3 separate regions of the Homo sapiens genome follow, and all the other regions are linked to region 1. Evidence: fine-mapped expression QTL. A gene starts in region 1. Each other region holds a variant in brackets. All regions are shown on one strand. Distances are between the middles of the regions.

Region 1 (8,176 bases):
TGTGTTTCATTTGCCTTTCTTAAATACAGGGCACCCCTGAAACAGGCTTTGTTCGCAGCTCTGCTCTGTCCTCGGATTTAGGTTATCGAACAGGCTTCCTCCCTCCCCTGCACAAGGGTTGGGAATGAGTCGATTTGCTTTCACTCAGCAAGAGCAAGGGACTAGTGGTGACCAAGTGGTAGACTGGAGAGGCCTCTGCCCCGTGGCACACAGCTCCACCATCAGAGAGGGTGATGTGGGTCATAGGTGAGGGATCTGGAGGCCCGGTATCGGAAGAGCTTCTCCAGGCACTGGCATTTTGACAGCAAACTGCTTCCGTGGCTCTTTCAGGACTGTTCCTGGCAATATGTTATTGGCAAGGACTATTTTAGGGCTATCCAGTTGTCTCCCCCTCTCCCCAACCTTTTATCTAGCTTATCAGTAGCTATCTTTCCTTGCTCTGTACAAAAACCTATAGCACCAATAGGCCCAGTAATCATGAAGGGTCAGTGCAAGGAAAGGCTGGAAGCCCTTCCTCTAACAGCCGTGCTGTGACTCCACTAACTTTGTGGGGTCTCCCATTACATAGCGTGGGTATCCTGAGCTGTGCAGCCTGCCTCACTCACCACCTTGGTACCTGACAGGACTACTGGATGTGCCTGTCCTTTTGTAGGACATTCTCCCATCCCAAAGATGAGGCTGTGCTGCCGTGTGGGCAAGCTCTGTGGGGAGAGGGGAGGCCAGTGGGTTGTTTTTGCCATCACAGAATACTGGGAAGCCCCTGGCATCCTGCTCCATAGCTCTCTTCACCACTATCCTGGAACCTTCTCCCCACCCCCATCCCCATGCCTCCAAGGCACTGACCTCAAATCCAAGTCTTTCTCACTTATCTCAAGCTGCCAGCCTGTAGGGATTCCTTATCTCAGCTCCATGTCAGCGGTGAGGAAGCCCCAAGAAGGCAAGGGAGCTGACAGCCTTCTCATTTTTCTCGTACATCCTCCTGTTCACCCCGCCATCCCGGGAGCCCCAGCCAGATGCTCTTCAGGGCAGGGAGCACGTGAGCAGCCCTGGGGCTAGAAGCCGGTTCTCCCACATTCCTGGGTGAGGGACTGGGTGGAGGGTGTGCCTGCCTCAGGCTCCTTGGGGGAGGCCCCCTGAAGGGCTGGGGAAAATCCTACTGAGCCCCAGGCTCTCCTGCCTGCACTGGCCCAGTGCGGGGGCGGGGGGGCGGGGGGATCCTGGACATTAACTCTCTCCTAGGCACCTGGGAGCTTCAGAGAGGAAGAAGGTAAGGTAAGAAGCAGATTCTCTGCGCAGGACTTTCTTAGTCCTCAGGCTATAGAGTTAAAGAAAGAAGTATCTGTAGAAGGTGGAGTCACCTTTTGTTTGAGTAACCGTTTCACCCACCCTGGCTGAGGGTGGCCAGGAACTCCCCAAGTTGTGCATTAATGGAGGGGGGTCACACAGATCCTACATTTTTTTGTTTTTGTTTTTTTTTTTTTGAGACGCAGTGATTACAGGTGTGAGCCACCGGATCCTACATTTCAAATGCATAAAAATCTAGATATGGGCTGGGCGCAGTAGCTCATGCCTGTAATCCCAGCACTTTGGGAGGCTGAGGCAGGCAGATCATGAGGTCAGGAGATCGAGTCCATCCTGGCTAACATGGTGAAACCCCGTCTCTACTAAAAATACAGAAAGCCGGGCATGGCAGCGGGCGCCTGTAATCCCAGCTACTCGGAAAGCTGAGGCAGGAGAATCGCTTGAACCCAGGAGTCAGAGGTTGCAGTGAGCAGAGATCACGCCACTGCACTCCAACCTGGGCGACAGAGCGAGACTCCACCTCAAAACAAAATAAACAAAATACTAGATCTGGAAGAGATCTTAGGGATTATTAAATTCAGACAACCTCATTTTTTATAGATGGGGAAACAAGCACAGACTCCAAGGGTCTCATCCAAGATCACACAGTTGCAGATGCTGGCTACAAGTCTCCTGCCTCAACCACCTGTATTACCCCATTCAGGGTCTCAAGAAGGGTCTATAAGACACTATCCATTGTGTTTCGGGCTGAGTCCATAGAGACAACCACAGACATGGGGGACTCTGCCCACAGGGAAGGCAAGGGCTCTGGCCATGGAGCTGGATGGGAAGACTCTGAAGCCCGAAGACATTGAATCCTGTGCAGGGAAAGAGCGAGGGTTTTGTGTACAACACACCTGCATACCTGGATGTGAATCTCAGCTCCACCCCTTCACCAACTCTGTGTGGCCTGGGCAAGCCATTCTAAGGGAACCCTCCACACTGCAACTTTCATGTCTATAAAATGGGAATAACCATGCATTCCTTACAGGACTTTTTTGGTGTGAGGATTAAATGAGAGAATATGTTGAAAAGTGCTTGGTAAATATATTAATACTATGCATTCCCTCTTCTTTGAATGACGTGACCCAGGTAGTCAGGCTTCTGACCACTAGAGGGCAGCAGAAGGTACTGGAAAACTGGGCCGAGTGAACCAGAGATTAGATGGGGTCCAGAGAGCAGGGATGAACTTACCCGTGTGGATTCTGGCAACTCCGGCAGGGAGGGCTCCAGCAGGCGCTGAGGGAAGAACTTTCAAGCAGAGCCGGGTCTCTTCAGGAGCGACTGCAGCAACCCTGATGCTTGGATGGAGTCCAGGCAGGTGATGGTAGTGAAGACCTTGCCAACAGAGTGGGCGCTGGAGAAGGAGCCCTTTAGTGGGGACCCTGGGGCCACGACTAGGCTGGCAGGCCCAGCCAGCACCAATTAATCCATGAGTATTGCCCAGCATTGAGCCTGGAGCACCTTCCAGCCCCTGGCCAGAGTCCTGGGTGTTCTGGGAAAAACCCCTAAACCTAGTAACTCCTCTCCCTACTAGGCCTCTTTGTTGCTGAATCTCTGGAATTTAGGGGCCAGCAGCTTTCTGACTCAGGTCAGCCAGGGGTTCATGTTCCCTCACTTGCCCTCCCCCTGCCTGGCCCATCTCTGGCCTGGCCCCTGGGAGGAATTTCCTGGGCCAGAGGGCAGCCGAAAGCACAGATGCCCACCCCAGCAACGTTCCCGCCACCTGCCCAGGCCAGTGCCCCGTGCCCAACCCCAGAGGGTGCGGGATGACAGACTCTGACAATCATTAAACCAGCCGGGCCTGATTTCCCAGCACTGCCTGCTAAGATCCGGGCCAAGTGGCACTGAATATGCAAATCACCTGGGGCCAGGAGCCCAGTCTAAAGGCCAGGAAATCCCCTCCATCCAATGAGACACCAGCTCAGGTTACTGCAGGGGACACACTATAAAGCCCTGAGCTCAGGGAGGAGCTCCCTCCAGGCTCTATTTAGAGCCGGGTAGGGGAGCGCAGCGGCCAGATACCTCAGCGCTACCTGGCGGAACTGGATTTCTCTCCCGCCTGCCGGCCTGCCTGCCACAGCCGGACTCCGCCACTCCGGTAGGATTCCCCGCCTGTCATTCCCTAGCCCAGCTCTTGGGAAACTGCAGAGGGGTCCAGAGGATTTGCAGTTCTGAACCTGCACACTCCAGTCTAGGATCTCCGAGCAAGAGCGTAGGTGTCCTGAGGGTCAAAGAACAGAGAGAGATTGTCTCTGGGAAGGCAGAATGGCCATGACGCCGCTAGTCTGGCTCCAGGGCCCCAGAGATCTGAGGAGGGAAGCCCAGCTGGAGGCTCCTGTGGTCCTGCCCTGGTCTGAGATCTTGGAGCCCTTCTTGAAGAGACGGTGTCCGCAGAGTTGCTGATCTTCCTGCCCCTGGGGGCTACTCTTGCCCAGGGTTGGGCAAAGCAGAGTAGCTGGGAGTGTAAGGAGAGGACCCTCGTCCCCTCACCAACCTCATCCTCTCTCCCCCTACCCACAGGTAGCCTCATGGCTGCAACCTGTGAGATTAGCAACATTTTTAGCAACTACTTCAGTGCGATGTACAGCTCGGAGGACTCCACCCTGGCCTCTGTTCCCCCTGCTGCCACCTTTGGGGCCGATGACTTGGTACTGACCCTGAGCAACCCCCAGATGTCATTGGAGGGTACAGGTGGGTCTCAGCGGGGTGGGATGGGGCACGGAGTGGGAGACAGATCCATCTAAGGGCCTGTTAGACAAATGGGGGAATAGGCAGGGAGGAGGGTCTCTAGGCAAATTCCAGGGCTAGAGGCTGAGACTTAGTGACTGAGGTGCTGGGGGTTGTGGGGCTGTGACAGGCAGAGGGAGGTGTCAGATACCAGGACAAGGGTGTTGTGAATGCTACCTCCTGCCCCTACTCTTGGGATGGCTCCAAGGGCTGAGGTGTGAATCCCCAGTGTGCTCCAGGAATGGGGCTGTGTGGGCTGGGAGTGGTGGCTCACGCCTGTAATCCCAGCACTTTGGGAGGCTGAGCTGAGCGGATCACCTGAGGTCAAGAGTTCGAGACCAGCCTAGCCAACATGGTGAAACCCCGTCTCTACTAAAAATACAAAAAAAAATTTATCCCAGCGTGGTGGTGGGCACCTATAATCCCAGCTACTGGGGAGGCTGACGCAGGAGTATCGCTTGAACCTGGGAGGTGGAGGTTGCTGTGAGCCGAGATTGTGCCATTGCACCCCAGCCTAGGTGACAGGAGTGAGACTCCATCTCAAAAAAAAAAAAAAAAATGGGGCTGTAAGGTCTGCTGGGTGGCCTGAGCTGAGCCTGTTTCCCTGCCTGGCCCTTGCAGAGAAGGCCAGCTGGTTGGGGGAACAGCCCCAGTTCTGGTCGAAGACGCAGGTTCTGGACTGGATCAGCTACCAAGTGGAGAAGAACAAGTACGACGCAAGCGCCATTGACTTCTCACGATGTGACATGGATGGCGCCACCCTCTGCAATTGTGCCCTTGAGGAGCTGCGTCTGGTCTTTGGGCCTCTGGGGGACCAACTCCATGCCCAGCTGCGAGACCTCAGTGAGTCCAGGCCCCTGGAGGCTGGGGAGCAGCTCCACATGTTGAGCTGAGTCGAGTTCAGTGTGGCCGTAGGCAGGCCCTGGAGCTCTGGGCCAGCTGCACAGCCAGAGAGAGCCCTTGAGGGAGGGATTAGGGGAGTGTGACCCTTCCTTCCTTCCTTGTCAGCTTCCAGCTCTTCTGATGAGCTCAGTTGGATCATTGAGCTGCTGGAGAAGGATGGCATGGCCTTCCAGGAGGCCCTAGACCCAGGGCCCTTTGGTGAGAACCCGTTTTCTCCTTCCTTCCCCAGCCTGTCTTGTCCCATCCCTGCCCCTCCACAGAGTGCTAGAGATGACCCCCTCCCCAGACTTCTTCCTCCCTCAATTAGAAAAATTGCAGCAGGTCATCAGACCCATGGGCAGCATCACCTGTCCTGGTCTGGTCCCCTGAGCCCTCTCTGAGTTCTCACCTCCTCTTCCCAGACCAGGGCAGCCCCTTTGCCCAGGAGCTGCTGGACGACGGTCAGCAAGCCAGCCCCTACCACCCCGGCAGCTGTGGCGCAGGAGCCCCCTCCCCTGGCAGCTCTGACGTCTCCACCGCAGGTGAGAGCTCTCTCTGGGCCACAACCTCCCTTCCCCGAAGTGTCCCTTGTTCCCTCTGGCTCCCAGCACCATAACTCAGGCCTTCTGGCAGGAACAGGAACAGGCTGGGAAGTGTGTCCTGAGAGCCAGCAGCGTGGTTGAGCAGAGGGTGGGCCGGCAGGGGACTTACTCTGACCCCGCCCCCCAGGGACTGGTGCTTCTCGGAGCTCCCACTCCTCAGACTCCGGTGGAAGTGACGTGGACCTGGATCCCACTGATGGCAAGCTCTTCCCCAGCGGTGAGTCGAGGGAGGTCCCCAAGAGGGCGTCCCATTTAGCAATGCACAGGGGGCCCGGCTCTTCCTGCAGCCTTTTCCTGTAGAGGGGCTACTCTCCCTAACTCCCCTCTTGCCCCTCCTTGACCTTCCACCACCGTCCCCACAGATGGTTTTCGTGACTGCAAGAAGGGGGATCCCAAGCACGGGAAGCGGAAACGAGGCCGGCCCCGAAAGCTGAGCAAAGAGTACTGGGACTGTCTCGAGGGCAAGAAGAGCAAGCACGGTGAGCTCCGGGGGCACGTGGGTCCTCCCTGCGCCGGGCTGAGCGGCTTCCTGGGGCACTGCGGGTTGTTGCAGGTATCCCTTCTCCCGTTTTCTCTGGCCTCCGCATGGCCTTTGGTAAGGCTGTGCACAAGCTGGGGGCTCTATGGTATCGGTCACCACCTAATTGCAGAGCCTGGCTTGGTGGTCCTGGAGAGGAGGAGGAAATAAGGCTCCCAGTGGGAGGCTCATGGTACCAGAGTCCTGTCCACTGACTCCAGTGTCCTGTCCACTGACTCCAGTTCTCTCTGCACTTGGCCACTGTCCTGCCCTCTGGGACACCCTCAATGTGAGGAGGCAGCTGGTGGGTCTTAGGTGGGCTGAGGAGAAAAGCAGTCACTGCAGTACCCGCACAGAGGGCACTGCGGGGTCTCTGGAGAGGCTTGCTGCATGCTGTGGCCAAGTCAGCAGTGCACTGGGGCGGGCAGGGCTGGCTGGCCTTGGGTGAGAGGGGACACCTGGATGGCAAACTGATGGAGGCTGGCCTTGCAGCGCCCAGAGGCACCCACCTGTGGGAGTTCATCCGGGACATCCTCATCCACCCGGAGCTCAACGAGGGCCTCATGAAGTGGGAGAATCGGCATGAAGGCGTCTTCAAGTTCCTGCGCTCCGAGGCTGTGGCCCAACTATGGGGCCAAAAGAAAAAGAACAGCAACATGACCTACGAGAAGCTGAGCCGGGCCATGAGGTGAGCTGGCGGCCAGGACCCTCACGATACAGCCGGACATGGGGACAGGCGCTCACACTCCCACCGCCCTCTTTCTGGCTGCCACTTGGCTTCTTGCAACAGGGCTGAGTCCTTAGAGTGAGGACAACATCTGGGTTGGTCTACTTCATGGATTAAATGACAACATGGAGAAAGTATTAGCCTGGCAGACAGCAGACACAGTGCACTTGAGCTAGCAGCAACATTTCTTGTATCGCCTGTGAGGCTTGTCCTCAGGAAGGCACCTGGAGAGTGGGAAAGGGGGCAGGAGCCGTGCCCACCCAGGGCCTGGCTTTCTCCTCGTTGAAGCACTTAGGTTGTTTTTCTCTGGGCCTCAGTTTCCTCCTGTGTCCAGGAGTACACTAGATCATCTTAAGATCCCGTCCAGCCCTAAAATCATGTACTTACTTTTTTTTTCTTTTTCTTTTTTAAATAGAGGCAAGGGTCTCTACGTTGGCCAGGCCGGTCTCAAACTCCTGGCCTCAAATGACTCTCCTGCCTCGGCCTCTCAAAGTGCTGGGATTACAGGTGTGAGCCAGTATGCTTGGCCTTTTCTTTTTTCTTCTTCTTCTTTTTATTTTTCGAGACAGGGTCTCGCTCTGTCACCCAGGCTAGAGTGCAGTGGCACAATCTTGGCTCGCTACAACCTCTGCCTGCCGGGTTCAAGTGATTCTTGTGCCTCAGCCTCCAAGTAGCTGGGATTACAGGCACCTGCCACCATGCCCAGCTAATTTTTGTATTTTTAGTAGAGACGGGGGTTTCACCATGTTGGCTAGGCTGGTCTCGAACTCCTGACCTCAAGTGATCCGCCCGCCTCAGCCTCCCAAAGTGCTGGAATTACAGGTGTGAGCCACCGTGCCCAGCTCCCTGGCCTTAAAAGTCATGTAATTTAATGATCAGACCCCAGTCACAGCCATAGGATACAAAGAAGCAAAGGCAAAGAGCCCTGTGTCCTGGGCACGGTTACAGGCCAGTGTAGGGAAAGAGCTTCTGCTTGCCAGTGTGAAGAACAGAGGAGTTTAGGAAGTGTGAGTCAGGCTCAGCTTAGTCAGGCAGAGACCAGTGGGCATGGGTTACCTGGGGGTAACGCGGGCCAGGTGGGCGGGCTGGCAGCCTGGGGCCCATTTCCTGCCAAAGCACCTCTGACCATCCTTCTCTTCACCCAGGTACTACTACAAACGGGAGATCCTGGAACGGGTGGATGGCCGGCGACTCGTCTACAAGTTTGGCAAAAACTCAAGCGGCTGGAAGGAGGAAGAGGTTCTCCAGAGTCGGAACTGAGGGTTGGAACTATACCCGGGACCAAACTCACGGACCACTCGAGGCCTGCAAACCTTCCTGGGAGGACAGGCAGGCCAGATGGCCCCTCCACTGGGGAATGCTCCCAGCTGTGCTGTG
Region 2 (8,176 bases), 500 kb before region 1:
TTAAACTGCAGAACCACCATCAGTGTCAGAGACCAAGGGCTTCCGCCCAAAGATGGCGATCCCATGGGATTTCCCCCTCTCCTTTCAATTCTCAGTATCTTGGAGAGATGAGCCTCGGAGTTTTGCCCAGGATTTTACAAAAGGGCAAACTCCTACATTACCTTCTTTGGTCTGGGTTTGTCCTCTCTGGAGTCATGGGACTGTTGATAGATTTCCCTGTGAGGACATGCCAACCTGTGCTGTGAAATGGCTTTAGGGTAGATCCAGAAAAAGAAGAGCAGTCACTGCAGTCACACTTGGATTTCTCCCAGATCTTAAAGCACCTTATAAACAGAATGGCTGTACAATGTGTCATCTAAACCAGAATGCTTTGGATAGTAAGTGGTATGTGGTAGTATTCGTAACTACACTAAGGCAACAGGACTATCTCAGGCAGTCCAGGGCAGATGGTCACCCCTCTTTTCCACCCAAAGACTGTCAGGTCACTTGTCTTAGGAGCTGTCTACGCAGAGCTACAGATGAAGCCAAGTAGGACCTGCCTTGTTTGGTGTTTTTCCAGAACCTCTCACCTTCTGACTATATTATTCTCCCAGCCTGCTGCCAGTTACTTGGGCTTGGTCTTAGATAGCACATTTGCAGATAAAGAAGACTTGAGGGATGAGGAAGGGCTTTGGGATTGAGTTGAGTCAAAGGTGATGCTGGGGTTACCCACCATGCAAACAGGAACAAGCCTGATGTTGAAATGACAGAAAAATCAGTAAACATCATCAATACTTGGGACATCCTTAAGGCAGAGATTCTCATTCTGCAGAGGTTCTCATTCTGGCTGACCTCATTTATATAACCATATCTAGACTGGCCCGAGCTGGTCAGCAGCACCCACATCTGCAGAGACAATGCAGTCAGAGCTCATCACCAATAAATTATCTGCTAGGGGTTCTAGAAGGAGGCTTGGCACACTTAGGGGCTTACCTGCTTCTCAGGACTCTCACAAATGTCTAACCTTTTCAGTATCTTTATGTTCTCTCTGTGCACTCTATTTCCCAACACTTCTGGGTTGGTATTTGATGGCTGCTAGGAATGAAGTGGGGCCTGTTACAGGCAGGAAGTAGGGCCCCTGTCCTCCAGCTTCCAACTTTGTCTGCTGCTTCCTCTGGCATCTTTTCTTCTCTTTCCTCCCTCATCAGCATCCTGATGCTACATCTTCTCTCTCCTCTCCTGTGGTGAAACCCTTCTTTTCCGCATTGATCCCAAGTGAAGAGGACCTGAGTGTGAGGCTGAGGAAAGAGTAAGGGAATGTGTCTGGCTTAGCTCTGCTCATCATCCCAGAGAAATTAGAGATCCAGTCTGGGCTGGAGATCTTCTTGTCCATCCTTCCATCCATCTGTCCATCCATCCATTCATTCATTCACCCATCCATCCATTTGTTCATCCATCTGTCTCTCCATCCATCCATCCCTCCCTCCATCCATCCATCCATCCATCCGTCCATCCACCTGTTCATCCATGTATCCATCCAACCATTCACTCAGAAGACATTTATTGGGGCCCCACTCTGTGCTGGTCTCTAGGTTCTGGGAATACAAGGAAGCCTATAATTTGGATCCTGACCTCAAGAAGTTTACTCATCTAATGGTCTAAAAAAAGAAAAAAAAAATCCAGCCCTAAACTTGCAGTTTGAGTCTCAGCTCTGTCATCTATGATTTAAAATACTAATGATGGCTGGCGCAGTGGCTCATGCCTTAATCCCAGCACTTTGGGAGGCCAAGGCCAGCAGATCACTTGAGGTCAGGAGTTCAAGACCAGCCTGGTCAACATGGTGAAACCCCATTTCTACTAAAAATAGAAAAATTAGCCGGGTATGGTGGCATGTGCCTGTAATCCCAACTACTGTGGAAGCTGAGACAAGAGAATCGCTTGAACCTGGGAGGTGGAGGTTGCAGTGAGGCGAGATCCAACCACTGCACTCCAGCCTGGGTGACAGAGTGAAACTGTGTCTCAAAAAAACAAAAAACAAATAAAATACTGTTGATAATGAGGAATAATTATAATTATTAAGCATTTACTACCTGTCAGGTACTTTACACAATTGTCCCCTTTAATCTTCGCAGTAGCTGTATGAAGTAAGGACTATTTTTACCCCCTGCTTTGCATGTGAGGAGACCAGGGCTTACAGCAGTAGCTAACTTAGTAGCTTTGTGACCATGGCCTAGGCCTCAGTTTTCCTCATGTGTGAAATGGGAGGTTGGACTAACTCAGTATTCTCCAAAATTTCCACTGAGGTACCTCTGACAGCAAAGAAGTAAATGTAAGGAACCCACAGTGTTGTCAGAATCAATCCACTCCCAGTCCTTGAAGTCTTGGGGTTTATTGCAAAAATTTATTTGAATTTTGCATTCTCCTTGGCACATAACTGTATTTGTCTTCATAAAAAGATAATGTTTAAAATGACTCACTGGCCAGGCACGGTGGCTCACACCTGTAATCCCAACCCTTTGGAAGGCTGAGGCAGGTGGATCATTTGAGTCCAGAAGTTTGAGACCAAGTTTGGCAACATGGTAAAACCCAGTCTCTACAAAATATACAAAAATTAGCTGGACATGGTGGCATGCTTGTAGTCCCAGCTACTAGGGACGCTGAGGTGGGAGGATCGCTTGAGCCCAGGAGGTAGAGGTTGCAGTGAGCCGTACTATACTCCACTGTACTCCAGCCTGGGTGATAAAGTGAGACCCTGTCTCAAAAAATAAATGAATAAATAAATAAAATTACTTACTGTTCAGAGAAATGGAGTTCTTAGGAAATGTATCGTGCTTGGTGGGTAGTATCTCTGTGGGCCCCTGGGAATATGACTAGGCCCGCCTACCCACGTGGGTGATCTGCAAGGCTCTCCCTGGCTCTGGCACTGTTCGGCTGTGCCTAGGCTAGGATGAGGCAAGTCAAAGGGGGCTTGTGGAATAAGGCCCAGCATTTGCTTTCAGTCCCTGTATTCATGTTTTCTAAGGAAGATTCCTAGAATCTCTCAGGGTTTGCTGGAGAAATGAGCTTGGCAGCCAGAGGCAAATGAAAATCGGAAAAGGCAGTGTATACATGTTATAAGAATAAAATGCTTAGAGGCAAGAAAAGGAGAAATCCATTTAGAAAGGAACAAAATAAAAACTCTAGGGGGTTCCTGATCCAGAAATCTCTTCTGATTTTCAGGCTGAAATTTACACTGTGAAGCTCCAGGGGAGCTTGAAAGGTGATATTCAGAAATGCACTGGGGTGGCTCAGGGTTGGGTCCTTAAGAACACTGTGAAACAGTCTAGATAGGTTTTTAAATGACCACTTCCTCTTCCCCTCCCCTTGGCCTGAAATTGATGTAAGGTCACTTCCCTCCTGCTCCCTCTGCAGCCACTGCCTCTGTCCCAAACAGGCAAAACTGTGGAGTGGCTCTCACAGCCAAAGTGTGGGGAGGGGAAAGCAGGAGGAGCTGGGGACTCAGGGCGGGAGCAGGCGGCAGGGAGCTCCCGGGCAGCTGGCTGTGCATGGCTCCACTGTTCCGAGCCTGACAGGCTCTAGGGAAGTGTGGCCACAGGGAGCTGGCTGAAGGCTCAGGAGAGGCTTTTCTGACAGGCCCAGTTCCAATCACGCCAGCTCCTAATCTACTGATCAGTTTGCTTTCCTCCTGCTTTAAAATCTCTTTCTCCCTGTTCTCCTGGTCCCTAGCCACACCACCTTCACTGCTCTGATCTTATCTATGATCACCTGGCCAATCTACTTAAAGCAGTGAAGTAGACTGAAAATAACCAGACTTTCGGCAAAACTCTTTTTTTTTTTTTTTTTTTTTTTTGAGACGGAGTTTCAGTCTGTTGCCCAGGCTGGAGTGCAGTGGGGCGATCTATGCTTACTGCAACCTCCACCTCCTGGGGTCAAGCGATTCTCCTGCCTCAGCCTCCCAGCCTGGGACTACAGGCATGCGCCACCACACCCAGCTAATTTTTGTATTTTTAGTAGAAACCCTGCAACACGGCGTTTCACCATGTTGGCCAGGCTGGTCTCAAACTCCTGGCCTCAGGTGATCCGTGCACTTCGGCCTCCCAAAGTGCTGGGATTACAGGCGTCAGCCACTGCACCCGGCCTTGGCAAGACTCTTGACTCCTCTCCTCCATCAGGGTCGATTATATTAAATTACACTGACAGAAGAAAGGATTGGATGACTTTTGAAGAACTATTTCAACCCAAAGACAAGCTAAGGAAACATTGAGTTCACTCACCTGGAAGGTCTTGGAGGGCAGGAATTGTAGCTTACCCTCCTTTGTAGCCACACAGAGCCTTACATGGAGTAGGTGCTCAGTATTTTATGAATGTGTGCGTGGATAAATCCATAGTTTGCAAGAAACCACGAATAAGCTTGCCACCTGCTGGTGAACTTGTGAAAGACACCTCGCCGCACCTCGGCTCCCCCAAGTGGCCATACACTGTAATCCTAAGAAAACCCTCAG[C/T]TTGGACAATCCTTTCTTTCCAAGGAGCCCTTTGTTACAGGAAGTCCCAATCCAGACCCCAAGAGAGGGTTCTTGGATCTCACGCAAGAAGGAATTCAGGGCAAGTCCATAGAGTAAAGTGAAAGCAAGTTTATTAGGAAAGTAAAGGAATGAAAGAATGGCTACTCCATAGACGGAGCAGCCCTGAGGGCTGCTTTTTGCCCATGTTTATGCTTATTTCTTGATTATGTGCTAAACAAGGGGTGGATTATTCATGCCTCCCCTTTTAGACCATATAAGGTAACTTCCTGACGTTCCCATGGCATTTGTAAACTGTCATGGCACTGGTGGGAGTGTAGCAGTGAGGACAGGTCACTCTCGTCGCCATCTTGGTTTTGGTGGGTTTTGGCATCCTTCTTTACTGCAAGCTGTTTTATCAGCAAGGTCTTTATGATGTGTATCTGGTGCTGACCTCCTATCTCATCCTGTGACTTAGAATGCCTTAACCGTCTGGGAATGCAGCCCAGTAGGTCTCAGCCTTATTTTACACATCCCCTACACAAGATGGAGTTGCTCCAGCTCAAACACCTCTGACAACTTGATACTTATTCATAAATCCTTTTGACTCTAACTCATATCCTACATTCTTAGCAGAGAAGCCAAAAATGTCCTAGGACACTAGTCAGTGAAAAAGGCCTTTGAAAGCCCTGGAAGCTGTTTTGCAACTCAGGACCCTCTCTTCTCCACTGGTAGATGTTCTCTCCCCAAGATCCCTTTCCCTATCCTTCACGCATCCAGACAGAGAAAGCCTGTATTGAGCACCCACTATGTGCCAAGCACTGGGCTAGGTGCCGAGAGATATGAATGGAGAATGGAGACTTTACAGGGAGGGGAGAGCTGAAGTGTGCACCCAGATGTGGGAGAGGAGACTGGCACAGGAAGAGCACCGGGAGTTCAGACAGGGAGAGAACTCCATTGTGGGGATCAGAGAAGGCTTACATGGGAGATGACAGGCTAATGAGCTGGGCCATAAAGGGTGGTTAGGCTCATAATGTATGGAGATGGACAGCATTCTGGTTACCTATTGCTCTGCAACAAACCACCCCAAACTTGGTAGTGTAACAGAGCGGTCATTTGTTTTTCTCTCTCATGGTTTTAGGGTTTTCCCAAGCTCAGCCGATTGTTCTTGCTGGGATCTCTCCTGTGATTACAGTCAAATGAGAGCTGGCTGGATTCTTCACTGAGTCTCCCTTACTCCTGTGGCTGGAGGCTGATGCTGGCTGTCAGCTGGGACCTCAGCTGAGGCTGTTAGCCAGAACCCCTACATGTGGTCTCTCCATGGGGCCTGGACTCTCTCACAGCATGGTGGCTGGTTGCAAGGAGAAGCATCCCAAGAGATAGCAGGAGAAAGTTGTCTTGCCTTTTGAAAACTGGCTTCGCAAGGCCCATAGCAGATCTTCCCCTGTGCTCCACTAGTTGAGACAGTCACGAAGCCCCACCCAGTTTCAAAGAAGGGGACAGAGACTCCATTTCCTGATGTGTGAGTGGCAAGGTTCTGGAAGAGTATGTGGAATGGAAAGCATTATTGCAACCATTTGGGGAAAATACAACTTGCTGCTGGCAGGAAGGTCATTTCAGGCAGAGATCTTCATTGATGGTACCTTCAGAAATGCATTTTTAGGAAAGAAAGTGGTTTTTACAGACTTGGCATTGCTAAGGGAAAACATAAGGTTTTAGAAGTATTTACTGAGCCATCTTCACCAAGACTTATGAGAAACATTTCTTCGAAGAGAAGATGCTGAGGAAGAGGAAGATGACTTTTGAAGTGGACTCCAAGGGGCAGACAGGAGGCTGGGATGGATGGCAGCTCACAGCTGGCAAAGGCAGTGGACTAGCAATCATGGGTGAAGGCCTACCAAGACTGATTCTTAGAGGGGGGAGAATTGACTTTGTGTTCTTATAGCAAGTGACCAGGAATAACCAGATGCTGTGTCCAAGCTGAGTCCTCAAAAACAGTAGTAGGCAGGGGCCAAACCAGAAAGCAACAGTTAACAAAAACTGTATTGTAGCAAGAGAGATAAGATAAGCACACAAGTGTAACCACCCAACGGGTTCACCTTGTCTGCTGCCTAGACAGAGCCGATTTATCAAGACAGGAGAATAGCAATGGAGAAAGAGTAATTCACGCAGACCCGGCTGTGCAGGAGACTGGAGTTTTATTATTACTCAAATCAGTCTCTCCGAGCATTCGGGGATCAGAGTTTTAATTTGGCAAGTAGGGGCTTGGGAAGTGGGGAGTGCTAATTGCTCAGGTTGGAGATGGAATCATAGAGGGTCGAAGTGAGTTTTTTGTGCTATTTTCTGTTCCTGGGTGGGATGGCAGAACTGGTTGAGCCAGATTACAGTTCTGGGTTGTGTCAGCTGATCCACCCAGAGTGTAGGGTCTGCAAGATATCTCAAGCACTGATCTTAGGTTTTACAACAGTAGTGTTATCCCTAGGAACAATTTAAGGAGGTTCAGATTCTTCAAGCCAGAGACTGCGTGACCCCTAAACTGTAATTTCGAATCTTGTAGCTAATTTGTTAGCCCTGCAAAGGCAGACTGGTCCCCAGGCAGGAAGAGGGTCTTTTTGGGAAAGGTCTATTATTAATTTTGTTTTAGAGTCAAATCATGAACTGAATTCCTTCAGGGCAAAGTTATTTCCACCTATGCCCAGGAATGAACAAGGACAGCTTAAAGGTTAGAAGCAAAATGGTTAGGTAGGTCTGATTTCTTTACTGTCATAATTTCCTCAGTTATAATTTTGCAAAGGCAGTTTCACAAGCAACCACAAGGCATAACAGCTATCATTTGGGGGTAATACAGGGAAGCAGGGAGCAGTCATCATGCATGAGCAAGAGCTGGGTCAGAGATAAGACACAGCCCCAGGTTAGAAGGCAGCTTCACAGAGATGAATAGGGAGTGAGATCAAGGACCACAGCAGAGGTTGACAGCCCAAGGCCCTTGATGGCACTATGACCTGAATGTCCAGGATCTTCCATGTCAACCACCAACTTTATAGGAAAGGGTGCACGAGCCAGGAATAATGGTGGTCAAGCTTGGCTGTGTGGGAAATAGGGAGTTTGCCTGCCTGGCAGCTGCTGAGTGTCTCAGTAGTGAGCTTCCAGCTACACAATATCTGGACCCTGAGACCCAAAGAGGAAGGAGACTTTGGCTTCCTTTACTATGGGCATTCTGTGACCCACCCTGGCAATGAGAAGGACTAAAGAACTACAAGATATTAAATCTACCTTATGTTTTTCACTTGCTTATGAGCACTGGAGCTCCATCACCTGAGCCCCCACTAAGTGCAGATGTATGTGACTTTAGAAAGGTTAGATTTACTCTTCATAGCTCAGGGTATAAAGAAGTGGTCCCAATAAAAGTTTCCTTTGCTACAGGGGGCTGAGGACAATCATGAGGTTGTGAACTCTTTGAGGACAGGATTAGATCTTGGTCAATATCTGTATGCTCAGTGCCTAGGGTAGCATCTAGTTCATGCAAGGAAGGAAAGGAGAGAGGAAGGAAGGAAGGAAGGAAGGAAGGAAGGAAGGAAGGAAGGAAGGAAGGAAGGAAGGAAGGAAGGAAAGAAAGGAGGGAGGGGGGGAGAGGGAGGGAGGGAGGAGAGTCAGATAATACAGAGAGGCCATACCATGAATTCTTAGTCATACCTGAC
Region 3 (8,176 bases), 73 kb before region 1:
TTCTCTGTCTCACCTTATTAAACCTCTCAGCAAGAATGGATGTGGTACAGTACTCTCTCCTTCTGGAAATCCTTTCTCACCTGATTTGGTGAAACCACTCTGAATTTCCTCTACCTCTCAGTCTCTTCATTGGCTCCTTCTCCTCTGCCAACACCTAAATGTAGGTATAATGAAGGGCTGGGGCCTCAGCCCTCTGCTCTCCTCCATTCACATTTATTCCCTAAGTGATCTCTTCTAGGCTCATGGCTTTCAGTAGCATCCACAGACTGATGAATCCCAAATTTAATCTCCCATCCCCTCTTCCCACTGAGCCCCAGACTTTGAGTAGGGGAGAGATGTGATCTAATTTATGCCTTTAAAAGGCTCATTCTTCCAGCTTTCAGATAAACAGACTGTAGGAGGGCAAGAGTGCAGAAATGAGACCAGTTAGAAGGGTGTTTCTGTCTCTCAGGTGAGAGCTCAAAGATGGTTTGATGAGAAATGGAAACTGGCTGACGCATTGGGGGAAAGGGAAGAGTCGGGGTGATCCGTACTGCCTAAGCTATTTGGTGAATTTGATGTCCTTTTTTTTTTTTTTTTGAGACAAGATCTGGAGTGCAACCCCTGTCAACCCAACATTTCCCCTTGGGGGTCTACTAAGCACAACAAACTTAACTTGTTCAAATCAGAATTCTTCACCTCCCAAAACCACTCCTTCTCTGCTGTTTCCCATGGCAGTAAAGGACATCAAATTTGGCCGGTCATGGTAGTTCACACCTGTACACCTGTAATCCCAGCACTTTAGTTTTATTTATTTATTTATTCATTTATTTATTTATTTTTGACAGTCTCACTCTGTCACCCAGGCTGGAGTGCAGTGGCATGATCTTGGCTCACTGCAACCTCCACCTCCTGGGTTCAAGCGATTCTCCTGCCTCAGCCTCCCGAGTACCTGGGATTACAGGTGCCCACCACCACGCCCAGCTAATTTTTGTATTTTTAGTAGAGACAGGGTTTCACCATGTTGGCCAGGCTGGTCTTGAACTCCTGATCTCAAGTGATCTGCCCGCCTCAGCTTCCCAAAGTGCTGGGATTACAGGCATGAGCCACCACACCTGGCCAATCCCAGGACTTTGGGAGGCCGAGGTGGGCAGATTGCCTGAGGTCATGAGTTCGAGACCATCCTGGCCAACATGGTGAAACCCCTGTCTCTACTGAAAATACAAAAAATTAGCCGGGCGTGGTGGCAGGCGCCTGTAATCCTGGCTACTCAGGAGGCTGAGGCAGGAGAATCACTTGAACCCAGGAGGCGGAGGTTGCAGTGAGCCGAGATCACACCATTGCACTCCAGACCTTGTCTCAAAAAAAAAAAAAAAAAAAAAAAAGACATCAAATTCACCCAATAGCTTAGGCAGTACTGATCACCCCGACTCTTCTCTTTCCCCCAGTGCATCAGCCAGTTTCCATTTCTCATCAAACCATCTTTGAGCTCTCACCTGAGAGACAGAAACACCCTTCTAACTGGTCTCATTTCTGCACTCTTGCCCCCCTACAGTCTGTTTATCTGAAAGCTGGAAGAATGAGCCTTTTAAAGGCATAAATTAGATCACATCTCTCCCCTACTCAAAACACTCCAATGACTTAGAATAAAAAGTCATGGCACTTAGAATAAAAAGTCAAACTCTGCTGCCCTAAAAGTCCCCACATGATCGGAACCCTGCTTACTTCCAAGGCCTCGTCTCCTCCAGGCTCCTTCCCCACTCCTCCTGCTCTAGTTTTGGGGCCTGGCTTTTCCTCTGACATGCTAACCCTGCCCCCACCCCAGGGCCTGTGTCTTTGATGTTCCCTCTGCTTGGAAAGCTTTTCCCCACATCTTCCCAAGGCTAGCTCCTTCGGTCCATTTAGAATCTGCTCAAATGGGCCAGTTGTGGTGGCTCACACCTGTAATCCCAACACTTTGGGAGACCGAGGCTGGTGGATCACTCAAAGTCAGGAGTTCGAGACCAGCCTGGCCAACATGGTGAAACCCCCTCCCTGCTGAAAAATACAAAAAAATTAGCTGGGTGTGGTGGCAGACACCTGTAATCCCACCTACTCGGGAGGCTGAGGCAGGAGAATTGCTTGAATCTGGGAGGCAGAGGTTGCAGTGAGCCAAGATTGCGCCACTGCATTCCAGACTGGGCAACAGAGTGAGACTCTGTCTCAAAAAAAAAGAATCTGCTCAAATGTCACCTCTTTTGGTAGTGAAGACCCTGACTACTTTGTTGGAAGTGGTCTCCCATTGATATGTCATATACTCTTCCCTTAACTGACATTACTCTTTTTTAGAAGATATATGTCATATGTTACATGTTATGTGTATGCATGCTACATATGATCTGCATATGGAAATATATATATTGTCTGTCTCACCCATTAAAATGTAACCTTGGCCAGGTGTGGTGGCTCATGCCCGTATCCCAGCACTTGGGAGGCCAAGGCAGGAGGCTCACTTGAGCCCAGGAGTTCAAGACCAGCCTTGGCAACATAGGGAGACCCCAGTATCTACAAATAATTTAAAAATTATCTGGGCGCGGTGGGACACACCTGTAGTCCTAACTACTTGGGAGGCTGAGGCAGGAGGATCCCTTGAGCTCAGGAGTTTGAAGCTGCAATGAACTGAGATTGCACTACTCTACTCCAGCCTGGGCAACAGAGTAAGATCCTGTCTCAAACAAACAAACAAAAAAAAACAAAAACAAAAAAACAAAAAACACAGTGGCTCATGCCCGTAATCTCAGCACTTTGGGAGATTGAGGTGGGCAGATCATTTGAGCCCAGGAGTTCGACACCAGCCTGGGCAACATGGTGAAACCCCATCTCTACTAAAAATACAAAAAAATTAGCTGGGCATGGTGGTGCACAACTGTAGTCCCAGCTACTCTGGGGGCTGAGGCGGGAGGATTGCTTGAGCCCATGAGATGGAAGTTGCAGTGAGCCAAGATCATGCTACTGCACTCCATCCTGGGGAACAGAGTGAGATCCTGTCTCAAAAACAAACAAACAAACATAGACTGTAACCTCTATGAGGGCAAGAACCTTGTCTCTCTTGTTCACTACTCTATCCTGGCATTTAGAAAGTACATAATAGGAACTCATTAAAGAGCTGGCAAATTAATGATTTAATGGAGTCCTCCTCCCTCCTTGTAAACATAAAGCATGATTCATGAATTCTGTGTATAAAACGAATGAAGAGAATGGGAATGGGAGGAGCGGATAGGAGTGAAGGGAAGGGAGGAAACTAATGTTCATGGGCCTTTACTACTAGGTTTCCAACCCAGCACTCTGCTTAGTGCTTTATGTGGATTATTTTGCTGAAACCTCATAACTATCCTATGACTAAGCATTGTAATTTCCTTTTTTTTTTTTTTTGAGATGGAGTTTCGCTCTTGTTGCCGAGGCTGGAGTGCAATGGCACCATCTCAGCTCACCACAACCTCTGCCTCCTGGGTTCAGGCAATTCTCCTGCCTCAGCCTCCCGAGTAGCTGGGATTACAGGCACGTGCCACCACGCCCGGCTAATTTTGTATTTTTAGTAGAGACGGGGTTTCTCTATGGTAGTCAGGCTGGTCTCAAACTCCCCACCTCAGGTGATCTGCCCGCCTCGGCCTCCCAAAGTGCTGGGATTACAGGCATGAGACACCGCGCCCGGCCGTAATTTCCATTTTATAGGTGAGGAAACTCAGGCTCCAAGACGTGAAGTCACTTGTTTGGGTCATTCAGCCAGCAACCAGCAGAGCTGGATCTGCACCCAGGTCTAGCTGGCCCCTGAGGAGACTATTCTAACCACTAGACTCATATAGTCTGCACTCAGAGCTTCCCTGGGAATTTCTGCCTGAGGATGTAGCACCTTTCACCTGCCAGTCTCAGGGACAGGGGTCCTGCCAGCCCTGCCGGCTTGATCTCAAAGGAAGGCCTATTGAAGTAACAATCAGAAGGAGCCTGTGGGCTGTCCATGAAAGGGTGGTGGAAGGGTGTGGGAACAGGAGGTGCTTCTATTCCTAGCTGTTTGTAAACAGCATCCCGACAACCCGGCTTGTTCTTTCTGCAGTGGGCCCCAGGGACAGCTGAAGCCAAGTTCTCCCAAAGCAGCCTTGGCTTTTCTGAGCTTGTGCTGGGGTGGAAGCCTGCAGACAAGGAGAATCCACCTCAAAATCTTCTCCTAATCTCCTTTCACTCTGTCTTTTTCCAACCCAGCAACTCAGTTTGGGCCCCTGAGCCTGTGACATAAAATAAATTAGGCAGAGGCTCAAAGAAATCAGGCTGCTGGGGCCAGGCAGCGAGTAATTACATAAGCCCTGCCTCCCTGCTTTCCTTCCTCCCCTTCCCCTCTCTCTTCATCATTCCTTCACACTCACTGATGGTTTTTTTTTTTTTTAATTTCGTGAGAGATAAAATAATGTTGATTTGGCAGATATACAGGTACAAACTCTGAAGAGTTTAGAGTGAGGAAAGAAGGTCTCTCGTGATGTGCCAAACACTTTCAATGCCTCATCCTATTTAATCTTCACTATAACCCTTCAAGGATGATTTTATCATCCCCACTTGACAGGTGAAGTAATTGGGCCTCAAGAAGCTATGTTAATGAGATAGCATCGATAAAGCCTTTGGCTCCAGAAGGCACTCAATCAAGTTAATGTTCTTTCTTCCTTGGGTAACTTATTCCAAGTCACTGGATCAGTAAGGGGCAGGAGCAGAATTCAAACCTGGACCTATCTGATTCCAGACACCCCTGGGCTTTCTGTCTCACCGCACTGCCCAGACACTAACAAGCCATTGGGAGAACTGATGAACCGAATGGAGACCACTGCTCTTTTGCTGGTTAAACAAAAGTGGTCCAATAAATAAGGAAGGGCCTGATCTGGAAAGGCCTGCATTCTATGGCTCAGGATATTCCTGTTTATCCAACTTGGCAGGCATGTAAATATTAGCGTC[G/A]CCACTCCTGTCCCCCATGCATGGCGCTGTGTGTTGTTCCTCTGCTCCTGCTGTGTGTGTGTGTGTGTGTGTGTGTGTATACACATGTGTGTAGACTGCCTATCTCTTGGTGTGCTTCATTCAGGCTCTGCACACTCTGGGCCCAGCTGTAGATATGCTGACACGGTCTGACAAAGATACTCTAAAGTCTCCTGGGGGAGAGAAAGAGAGACTGAAGGAGGATAGACAGATAAGACCGGGGCTTTGTCCTCACCTTCTTGTCCCAGCCTGGGGACCATGAAGCTCCCAGAATCCCTGAAGCCTCCAGCCTTCTCTGATGCTGGGAGCAACCTCCCCTTGGTTAGTGGGACTCAGACCCCACCTCTTAACCATCTATATCCCGCTCTCACTGGTGAGCCATCTTATTTTACAAGTGCTCCTTGGTCCTGTCCATCTGTCCTGCCTCCCTCTTGCATTTTCCATCCAGCCAAGCTCTTTTTTTTTTTTTTTTTTTTTTGAGATGGAGTCTTGCTCTGTTGCCAGGCTGGAGTACAGCGGCACGATCTCGGCTCACTGCAACCTCCATCTCCTGGGTTCAAGGGATTCTCCTGCCTCAGCCTCCCGAGCAGCTGGGACTACAGGCATGCGCCACCACACCCAGTTAATTTTTGTATTTTTAGTAGAGATGGGGTTTTACCATGTTGGCCAGGCTGGTCTCGATCTCTTGATCTCGTGATCCACCCGCCTCGGCCTCCCCAAGCACTGGGATTACAGGCATGAACCACGGCACCCGGCCTAACCAAGCTCTTATACCTACTGTCCCAGTAAGGAGAAGGCAGGCACCCAGAGGGCAGCACTGAGGGTGGGAGCAGGCACTAATGCCTCACTTGCTCAAAGTCTTTTTTTTTTTTTTTTGAGATGGAGTCTTGCTCTGTCAGCCAGGCTGGAGAGCAGTGGCTCGATCTCAGCTCACTGCAACCTCCGCCTCCCGGGTCAAGTGATTCTCCTGCCTCAGCCTCCCAAGTAGCTGGACTACAGGCATGCACCACCACGCCCAGCATTTTTTTTTTTTTTTTTGAGACGGAATTCTGCTCTTGTTGCCCAGGCTGGAGTGCAATGGCACGATCTCGGCGCACCGTAACCTCCGCCTCCCGGGTTCAAGCAATCCTCCTGCCTCAGCCTCCCTAGTAGCTGGGATTACAGACATGTGCCGCTATGCCTGGCTAATTTTGTATTTTAATAGAGAAGGGGTTTCTCCATGTTGGTCAGGCTGGTCTTGAACTCCCAGCCTCAGGTGATCCACCCGCCTTGGCCTCCCAAAGTGCTGGGATTACAGGTGTGAGCCACCGTGCCTGGCCATTTTTTTTTTTGTATTATTAGTAGAGATGGGGTTTCCCCATGTTGGCCAGGCTGGTAAAATTCTTTTTTTTTAATTTAATTTTTAATTTTTTAGAGATGGGGTCTTGCTATGTTGCCCAGGCTAGTCTCGAGCTCCTGAACTCAAGTGATCCTCCTGTCTCAGCCTCCCAAAGTGCTGAGATTACAGGTATTAGCCATCACACCTGCCCTCAAAATTCTTTAAATATTATATACATACAGAAGAAAACGTATAATAACAATATTTAAAACAAACACCTGTGGATTGTACCACCTAGTTTAAGAAACAAGCAGTTGCTTTTTCAAACTCTGGATGGAGGCAGTTTCAAATTTCAGGGCGAGATTTTAACAGTCTAACCCTCTCCGGTGCCTGCTTTTGCCTCCCTGGGTCAACAGGCCCCCGTCACCTCTTCTGCCCTCTTCACCCTAGCCTCCAGGGCTATTTTGGGTGTGTACCAGTTGGGGTTAATCTCCTTAAGCATTGAGCCGTGCTGCTCAGTGCACTCCTGATAGGTCCCAACCCTCTGCAAAGGGCATTCTGAGGGTTAGGCCGCCGGCCTCGGGCCTTCCCGGCCCCGTAGAGATACCATGGACACTGAGCTGTGAACTAGAACCGATGGGGGAGGGGGCTGCTGAGGCTGTGCAGGCAGTGGGAGTGGAAGGTCAGGAGGGCTCAGGCCCAGCAGCCGCTATTAGTAGGTTGCTTCGGGTTTGCTTCTCGAGTTTACCTCTAGGGAGAGCTTTCCTCCACCCCCACCAGCTCAGCTGCCCTGACCCTGGCTGGGTACAGGCGCTAATCCCCAGCCCCTGCTAACACCAGGGAGAAGGGAGGGGGAGGCAGGCTGGAGATTTTCTTTCCCACTTGGGAAGGAAAGAGGACACACAAGTTGACCGGTTGGGATCCGGTTCCTGAAACCTGAGACAAGGACAAGAGTTTCACTGAACCGTTGGCTACAGCTTGCCCAGGGGCTTTGTCTTCTACCTGGGCTGAAGGAGAGTTCCCGGATGATTAGGGCGGAGCTACACTGGCTGACAGGTCTGGCCCTTTAAAGGGAGGGAGAGAAGCTGGGGTCAATTCTTCCAAGTCCCACCTCTACCCTCCCCAATCCCCTGCTAACATTCACTCAACAAACAGAGGCTGAAGGCCTGCTGTGTGCTGGGCCCTGCATTTGCATTTTGCCCTCCAAGTCCCACAAGCTGGTGAGTGAGACAGCCCAAGAAAACAGATGATTATACAAAAGTCATGTCCCAAGGGCTTTGGTACAGACTGGTATTGGAGCGCTCAGACAAGGTGCCTGACCTTGAGGGAGTCCTGGAAGACTACCTGGAGGAAGTGGTACCTGAGACAGGCAGAACAAATAGGAGTTGACCTGGAAGAGGCAAGGGTGGAATATTCATGAAAAAGATGGTAAACAATCAGGAGGATCTCTGGAATATCCCATCCCTTGGAGGGAGACCCTGGAGGGAGAAGCAGGCCAAGGGCCCTCTGGCAGCCTAGACTCACTTTGCACAATAGCCAGAGTATGCATCTTGGGGCTGTCCTTCTGGGGAAAAGACAGACCTTAAGACTGTCTTAAGGCCAACCTCCCAATGTTGGTTTCTTTCTTTCTTTTTTTTTTTTAAATTTTATTATGAAAATTTTCGAACATACATACAAAAGTAGAAAAAATAATATAATGAACACCCATGTAGACCCATCACCCAGCTTCAACAATTGTCAACTGGTGGCCAATCTTGTTTCATCTATATATACCCCCACCCAGATTATTTTAAGGCTAATTCCCAAAGCCAATAAATTTTTCCCATAAATATTTATGTATTTATGTCTAAAAGAAAAGAATCCTTTAAAAAGTATATCTGCAATGCC

Which allele goes with the higher level. Positions count from the first base shown, and alleles are read on the strand shown. Sizes are in standard deviations (SD) of each study's normalised expression. Not every link is listed here.
As copies of T replace C in region 2, the expression in coronary artery of the gene that starts at base 3,323 in region 1 goes up (large effect, 1.6 SD a copy in GTEx).

The links. PIP is the estimated chance that this variant, and not a neighbour inherited with it, causes the effect.
Region 2: its variant is fine-mapped to the expression of ELF3 in coronary artery (GTEx, PIP above 0.99).
Region 3: its variant is fine-mapped to the expression of ELF3 in whole blood (TOPMed, PIP 0.98).

Annotation. Positions count from the first base shown.
Region 1 is chr1:202,007,265-202,015,440 of GRCh38, forward strand. It overlaps ELF3 (E74 like ETS transcription factor 3), which reads left to right and starts at 3,323. Exons shown (of 9, transcript NM_004433.5): 1 at 3,323-3,442; 2 at 3,865-4,035; 3 at 4,693-4,914; 4 at 5,080-5,172; 5 at 5,376-5,495; 6 at 5,683-5,772; 7 at 5,918-6,034; 8 at 6,565-6,760; 9 at 7,945-8,176. The coding sequence starts at 3,873. The coding sequence ends at 8,059. It overlaps ELF3-AS1 (ELF3 antisense RNA 1), which reads right to left and starts at 3,089. Exons shown (of 2, transcript NR_146472.1): 1 at 2,536-3,089. RefSeq lists enhancers at 921-1,562, 3,289-4,222, 4,223-5,157, 5,967-7,166.
Region 2 is chr1:201,508,725-201,516,900 of GRCh38, forward strand. All of the region lies in intron 1 of CSRP1-AS1 (CSRP1 antisense RNA 1), which reads left to right. LOC124904484 (a long non-coding RNA gene) reads right to left here. Exons shown (of 2, transcript XR_007066793.1): 2 at 1,000-1,277. Among named protein-coding and RNA genes, the nearest start is that of CSRP1-AS1, 5.6 kb to the left of the region's middle. RefSeq lists a silencer at 3,262-3,341 and an enhancer at 3,492-3,701. The variant C/T (reference allele first, on the strand shown) is at 4,482.
Region 3 is chr1:201,934,757-201,942,932 of GRCh38, forward strand. The region is part of intron 1 of LMOD1 (leiomodin 1); the gene reads right to left. Among named protein-coding and RNA genes, the nearest start is that of LMOD1, 7.7 kb to the right of the region's middle. RefSeq lists an enhancer at 6,695-7,644. The variant G/A (reference allele first, on the strand shown) is at 4,954.